2 linked regions of the Homo sapiens genome follow. The protein of the gene in region 1 interacts with the protein of each later gene in a biochemical or structural test. Each region holds a gene or a part of one and is shown in the gene's direction. Other genes may lie near its edges.

What was found.
Region 2: the proteins of BMP6 (region 1) and ACVR2A form a complex in vitro, tested with the Homo sapiens proteins (one study listed by BioGRID).

What each region holds. Positions count from the first base shown.
Region 1 is NC_000006.12:7,732,440-7,736,267, forward strand, and holds part of BMP6 (bone morphogenetic protein 6 preproprotein), read left to right. Parts: intron 1-3,828. UniProt on the Homo sapiens protein: Growth factor of the TGF-beta superfamily that plays essential roles in many developmental processes including cartilage and bone formation.
Region 2 is NC_000002.12:147,921,280-147,925,107, forward strand, and holds part of ACVR2A (activin receptor type-2A isoform 1 precursor), read left to right. Parts: intron 1-1,693; coding exon 1,694-1,832; intron 1,833-3,828. UniProt on the Homo sapiens protein: On ligand binding, forms a receptor complex consisting of two type II and two type I transmembrane serine/threonine kinases.

The sequences.
Region 1 (3,828 bases):
ATCCTTTTTAAATGTGCTGAATCATGGTTAGTTCCTCTATTTGAGAGCTTACCTCTGATCAGCTTGGAGGAGGGCTTCCCTGGGATAAGAATCTGTTTAAATACAAAAACAATGCTCAGTGCTTGCTTTAGCATATAATTTGTTGCCTCTCTGTGTCTTCAGAGAGTAACTACTTTATATGTTGGATTTCAAATTGATATTTTACTTGACTATGAATACTGGCTAAATACTGGCTATCAAATGTAGTATATCAAACGTAGTATATCAAACGTAGCAAACTAAAAGATAGCAGCTCTGCTGTCTTTGCCTCACTCCTATTTACGAAGGTGAGTTAGACAAGGAAAATGAAGAGGGTACAATGTCTTGCATCATGAAGCAGCTTTCTGTAACTTTTTCACAAACCAATCCTTCACTTTCTGCTTCCCATCTTATATCAAAAATGAACTATTCTAGGGAATGATTTTTTTTTTTTTTTAAGACAGTATCTTTTTCTGTCACCCAGGCTGGAGTGCAGTGGCGAGATCTCGGCTCACTGCAACCTCTCCGTCTCCTGGGTTCAATCAATTCTCCTGTGTCAGCCTCCAGAGTAGCTGGGATTACAGGTCTCCGCCACCACACCTGGCTAATATTTTTTTTTTGTATTTTTAGTGGAGCTGGGGTTTCACCATGTTGGCCAGGCTAGTCTCAAACTCCTGACATCAAGTGATCTGCCTGCCTTGGCCACCCAAAGTGCTGGGATTACAGGCTCACGCCACTGCGTCCGGCCAGGAATGACTATTGTTTAACTTAGCACAACGTCGTTACAGTTTTAATTTTTCTACTTCGATCTTTATTCTATTTTTCTTCCTCTTCTGTTCAGAATTTTAGTCATTTTGCCATCTTTGGTGCTTCCAGTAGTGGGAAGAAAAGTAGACAATATTTTAATTAGACAATTTTGTTTTTCACTAGTTTTCATAAATATATGAGTAAAAGGAGTAGAAATCACCGCAGAAACTCCCTAAGATAGGAATAGACAATTTACCAAGGCCCCATTCACGTAAACAGCTGTTACACATTAACCATCCTGTCCCCCCCTCCCTAGGCCACAGCATAACCCAGCCATGTGCCCAGCAGCTGGGCTGCTCCAGCCGCAGGGTGTCACCTGGGGGGCAGATATAGGGCATAGCTGGCATCTTCTCTTGTGTTCCCCGCAAGGAACCAGTGCATTATGTTGTTCTTATTTCCCTGTTTTCATCACGACAGCGGAGTTAACTTTATTCAAATACACTTTCTTTTCTGATCATACCCTTACCTTCTCTTCAACACCCTCACTCCCATCTCTGATCCAGCTTTTACCCACTGGAAACGTGTGAGTCGGAAAACGGCACTAGTCTCTCCTGGAATATATGAAAGTGGTGATAGTTGTATGAAGGGGAAGGAAAGCCATCACCACTTCGGTGAAAATTAGAGTTAACTCTAATTTTTCAGTGCCATTAACCTCTGAAGTTTCGAGAGTACCAGAAATTCTCAGAACCTGCATTCCCCCTGTTCACCTTTTACTACAAGCATTAGAAATCAGTAACACATTGTGGGTCACTGAAATTTATCAGATTTTGTGTTCAGTCACTAGTGTTTTGAAGATTTTGTTGTCTATACTTTTTTTCCAATGTGAATATGTAGTATTTCAGCACCCTATGCATAAAGTTAAGGGTCTGAAGCCAGGCTGGGAACACAGCTACCATCCCTAACATGGTTTTTCTGGGGACACGTATGCCCCAGCAACAGAAAACCCATTTGGGGTTTATTGGTTAAATGAGTTTGGGATAACTGGTGAATGTATGTTCGCCATAGATCATAGAATTTAGAGCTTGAAAAGTTCTCGCATATCATCTAATCTGTTTGTTCGCAGTTAAATTTGTTAGATGTTTTCACCACCATTTTCTCTTTACTGCTGTTACCTCTTAAGATTGAGGGACAATCCATGAAAACACACAGAGATCCTAGTGCATCAGAGCAATAGGGCTGTTGGCCAGGCTGGAGTGGATAATGAAGGAGAAATTACAAAAGCAGGCAAGAGCACAACCCTGGAAGAGCCGAGGAAACCCAAATCTGGAATTGTTGGGGTTTTCTCTTAGTGGATAGCATCTTCTCCAAGAACTCTACTTTTAGAAAAGAAAATGCTATGTATATCTATAAATGTCCAAAGGACTGTTGACTCCAAAGAATTGTTTTCTGCTCCGAAATTGAGTTGAAAACCACGTTGCTCTGAGTGGCATTGTTCCACTGATATCCACTGATTCTCTTCCTGCCCTTCCCATCTCCATTATTAAGGAGATTGGGACCATAATAGAGATGATATCTAAATTACATCAGTTAATTCCTTGATGGGTCCCCACGGTCTCGTTATCTCAAGCACAGTCCCAGATGACTGGGTCGAAGAATCTCCTTCAAACATTTTTGCAGGATGAGGTTCTGGTTCCAAGTGGGAGAGCCTTCCTGACTTTCAGATTTATAGGCATACGCCCTTGATGACTGATCCTCCTGCTGGCCAGGTCAGGATTGTCCTAGGCCTAAAATGTCCTTGCCACACAGTGCCGATTATATGTTCAGATTGTTTTCATATCACCAAAGAGCTCAGCTGGCCACGGGGGGAAGTGGAGTGGAGTGGATTCACAGGGCGCAGAAAACAGTGCCCCTCGGAGGCAGAGCCCCGGAGCCCGCTCCACCCTGACCTCCGATATCCGCCACGGGCCTTATTATCACTCTCCTGCCGCTTGCCCTTTCACCGTCCAGAACGTCTGCGTTTGTTGATTGTTGTTGCTGTGTTTACAGTCCTGTTGGTTTCCTGTACGTGAACATGGGCTGGAAAAAAAATTCTGATTTGTGTCTCAGCAGAGCATGAGTGAACCATATCATTGGTAAGAGCTGATTAGGCCAGGAGATTTCTTATAATATTAGCCTTGCTTATTCTCTGAGACCAGTTATTTTCCCTCCCTCCTTTTGAATCTATGAATTACATTTAAATAGTCCAAAGACTGAGTTTTGTAAACTACAAAATTAAGGACTAAAAGTTTTTACTTAATTTTGATTTTTATTCAGATTTTATTTGTAGACTCCCATATCGGAATAAGTTAACAACGGAGAAGCTGTACATTTTTTAGAAAGAGAGGGTTTTTTTTTAAGATCAGTTTGAGGTTCACAGCAAAACTGAGCAAAATTTTGCAGAGATTTCCCAGGTACCCCCTGCCCCACAGGTGCACAGACTCCTCCATTATCACCCAGCAGAATTTGGTATCTTTGTTGCAATTGATGAACTTATATGGACACATCATTGTCACCTAAAGTCTGTAGTTACATCCCGGTTCACTCGTAGTGTTGCAGATTCTGTGGATTTGGACAAATGTGTAATGATGTTATCCACCGCTATAGTATCATGCCGAGGAGTTGTGAAACTACTCTGCCCTACAAATCCTCTGTGGAGAAGCTGTACATTAAACAAGGAAAAACAAGTCAATGAAAGTATAAAAATTCAAAATACGCAGAGTTCGGGGAAAGAATTATAAAATACCTCAGTTGAAGAATATTTTGTTTCTGGGGTTTTACTAAAGTGGTCCCTAAGGAAGTAATTTTGATAGTCTATGACAATGTGGGATTTATTTTATAGTGCTTCTATGTGTTGACAACAAATCCATCAGAAATCTTTCTTTTTTCTTTCTTTGTTTTTAAGTCTAGGAGTTTAAAAATCTTTTTTCCTCCGCATAGTTTGACTGAGGTGTCTGTCACCATAGTACCTAGACAATCCCTCAGGCAGAGATATGAGTGATTAAATTTCTCCCTGGCTTGTGCCCT
Region 2 (3,828 bases), on another chromosome or scaffold:
CCACCTCGGCCTCCCAAAGTGCTGGGATTATAGGCGTGAGCCACCACGCCCAGCCAAGATCACCTTTTAATCAGGGAAACCAGTTCAACCTAAAAGGTGACATTTTCTACAAAGCTAAATGGTTCAGGCCTTCGACATTATCATTTCTTCATCTTTCATATCATGTAAATTATTTGGCCAACTAATTCTTAGGTTTCTTTTCCCCAGCATATCCTATTGGTTCCTGAGGACACGTTTTTAATGTCATGGCACCACCAATTTTGGCAGTATTGACTAACTATTTAAGAATGTAGTTTGGGGTAATGGTCAGTAGCCATATAGCTCTAGAAAAGTTGACTGCAAATGTGTATGGGAATGGAGGCAATTTTGTGGAGAATACTACCAAGATTGTGTAGGAAGCCTGAGGACAAACTTCTAAGCTAATTGAATGATAGACTATCATAAGACTAAATTCTGGGAACATATTCTTAATTTGGTACCTCATAAGCCCTCCCTCATTTTTTGAGAAAAAAAATTTCTGACTCATTCATGTCATATTTTTAACTCCTTCACAACTGGGTTTTATGATTAGTTAAAAATTATTGGCTTACAGTAATGACTCCTTGACTTTAGATTTCATGGACCAGAAAATTTCAGAAATATTTGGAGGGACTTGCATGTTATTGCACATTTTATATAGTACAAAGAACACATATAAAAGAGGGAACATTTTATGTCAACATGGTAAATAAACCATAATCTTACAATAAAAGAGGTAGGTACCTTGGATGGCATACATTTACCTGTAAGAGAAAAGTAGGCTTTAGGGAAACATTCACTGATAGCACAATTAAAATAATTATTCTGAGTAGTAAATTTTTTAAAAGTAGAGCCACTTTTCCCTTTAATGTGTTCTCCTTGAACTTTAGTCTTAGTGATCTGTCTTTATTCTTAAAAAAAATCTTTACATGTATATTTGCATAAATTGCCCAACTTTTAGTCTAGAGTAGAGATTATAGCCACCTAAGGATGGAGCGTTATGGACGTACCAATATCTAGACTACTCTCTAGTTCGAATACATCGCAAGTATGTTGTGATGTACCCAGCTATCTCACAAATATTTTTAAGCATTCATATATGAATGTTGTCAAGCACCAACCAAAGCTAGCTGTACTAGCTTAGTAACCATAGTTACAGTACTAAGAAATACCAAATTGTTGGGGACAGTTATAAATAAAGGACTCCAAGACAGAAGAATTTATGAATAAACAAATACATAGATTTTGTACAGATAGAACTTTTTAACATCAGTCTGTCCTTTACTTAGCTAATTCTTTTTATAACATTTTATTAGTTTTTTTAATACAGAGAAAAGACCTCAAAAAAAGTTTTTTTTTTAAAGCTACATTTCAAACAGTATGCAAAGGTACAGTTGAAAAGTATGCAGCATCCTTCTCCCAGCTGACAATTGGTTCAGTTTCTTGTGATTACATCCAGAAAGGGGAACATAAAAACTTCTAAGTCTGTACCAGCATAATGTCTGTTGATATATTTTTTAAGTATACGCAGAAAGGATCTTTCTATTTATACGCTATAGTGTGTATACCTTACCCTGGTAATAGACCACATTTGGTTTTGATTCATCTTACAAAATCATATGTTAGTTCATAAAGTTAATGAATGAGTACTCTTTGCTTTTAACATCTTTTTCAGGTTGGTACCCGGAGGTACATGGCTCCAGAGGTATTAGAGGGTGCTATAAACTTCCAAAGGGATGCATTTTTGAGGATAGATATGTATGCCATGGGATTAGTCCTATGGGAACTGGCTTCTCGCTGTACTGCTGCAGATGGTAAGGGAAAAAAATATTTTTAAAAAAGATATATATGCCTACCACACATATATGAAAAGGGATGATACACTCCAAGGTAATATTTTAAAGTACAGTTTTTTTTTAATTGACTCCAAGAGATGGTAGAGAATTCAGGAGGCAGGGGAGCAGTGGGTGGGGTAGGAGAGGAAAGGAATTGCTATGTATTGATCCTTTACCATTACTAGCTATGTTGCTGGACACTTCACATACCTTAAGGTTATTTCCTAAAACGGTTTCAGAGGTAGTTATTATGCTTTACATATGAGGAAATTGAGATGCAGAGAAATTAAGTAGTTTGCCTACTTTAGCCTCAAACTGGTGAATGATGAAACCTAGATTTGAAACTCTGATCCAGACATAGGGAGAGGTCTGCTTTAAGGTCATATGGGTCCTGCCCCCCAGGTTAAAGGGTTTCTATTACTTGTTCTTGTTATTGAAGTCCATGTTCAAGTCTTATAGATATTTGCTTTTATTTATTTATTTTTCTGGGTAAATTTTCAGACGATATTTCCAGTGTGACAGAACTATTTTAGTGTTTCAAGCACTGTCTTTAGTACTCCTTCATAAGGTCTTTACTCTGTCTTCAAGTATGTTGCAGCATTTTTTGTTTTGAATAATATAAGGCAAACTTGCCGACTGCTAAACTCCTAAACAGATGTAAATGAGCTTGATCTGTTTCTTAAGTTCTAATTTATAATTGCCTAAAAACTTCCTGTGATTGTCAAAGACCATAGAAGAAATTGTGAATATTTTAAGTTATAACCAATGTAACCTATGTTACTAACAATATTTTATTTTCTGAGTACTGTAATAGGCTCTCGTTGTAGGACAGACTGCCACTGGAATATGAAATTCAATATAGGGTACTATTAAAGGGAATTTAATAGAGTGTTCAGAAATGGGCATTCTTCCAGGATTGAGGGATTGGCTTGGGAGTCAATGCCAAACCTAAGAAAAGTTGAAGCAATTTTGGAATAATTTCAGAAGTCTTTAGGAAGAAGCGTTAAGAACGCAGAGTGTTTTGACTCTAAGAGGAATGACATTTATGATGTGCATTTATGGAAGCAGAAGTAGGTTAGATGGCAGATGTTATAGGAAAATATATTTTATAAGAACTTTATTAATATGAACTCTCCATAACAAATCATTGGATTAAGTAATTTAGGAGACACAAGACCTTATTCTCAAGTAATATACAGTTTAGTTAGGGCAATAAAATATATCCTGGACAATTAACTCTAGAGTAAGTTAAGTGTGAGTTGTCTGGCCCATTCCCCAGTACATAGGTATTCAATAAATGTTTCTGGGTTAGTGCAATACTTAAGAAATACAAGCATGTGTTTTAGGAGTTTAGGGGAGAAATTGCTTTGTTTATGGGGAAGAGAGGTTTCAGAGAAGTTCTTTTGGAAAAAGAAAAGGCTAGATACTGACTTTTCTTAAATGCCATGAAATAATTTCAGAGTCAGGCATTTCTGACTCTTAAGTCAGAACCCAATTGTTAAGTCAGAAATTGGGGTAGAGAGGATAGTGTGAGCATTGATTGCTAAAGTAGGTGCTTTCACGTGTGTTGATGGTTACTTGTTTGTTAAATGAAGTAATTCTCAAACTTTAATGTGTCATACCAGATTCTTAGGAATCTTGTTAAAATTTAGATTCTGACTCAGTAGGTCTGGGTTGAAGCCTGAGAGTCTACATTTCTTAAAAGCTAAGCTACCAGTTGACGGCAGTGTTGCTGGCCTGTACACCACATAAGTGTTGAATAGACACCTTAGAATGTCGGTACTTTGTCACTGGAAGTACTCAAGCAGAGACCAACTGTCCAGCCATAGATAATTCTTATATTTGAAGAGGGTTAAGTTAGATGACCCCTTTATGATTCATTGTATTCTACCCAGGAGTATTTAGTGCATTTCAAGAGCTTCACAAAATTTGTGTTTATGCACACATACATCTATCTGGTCACTGATACTGCTCA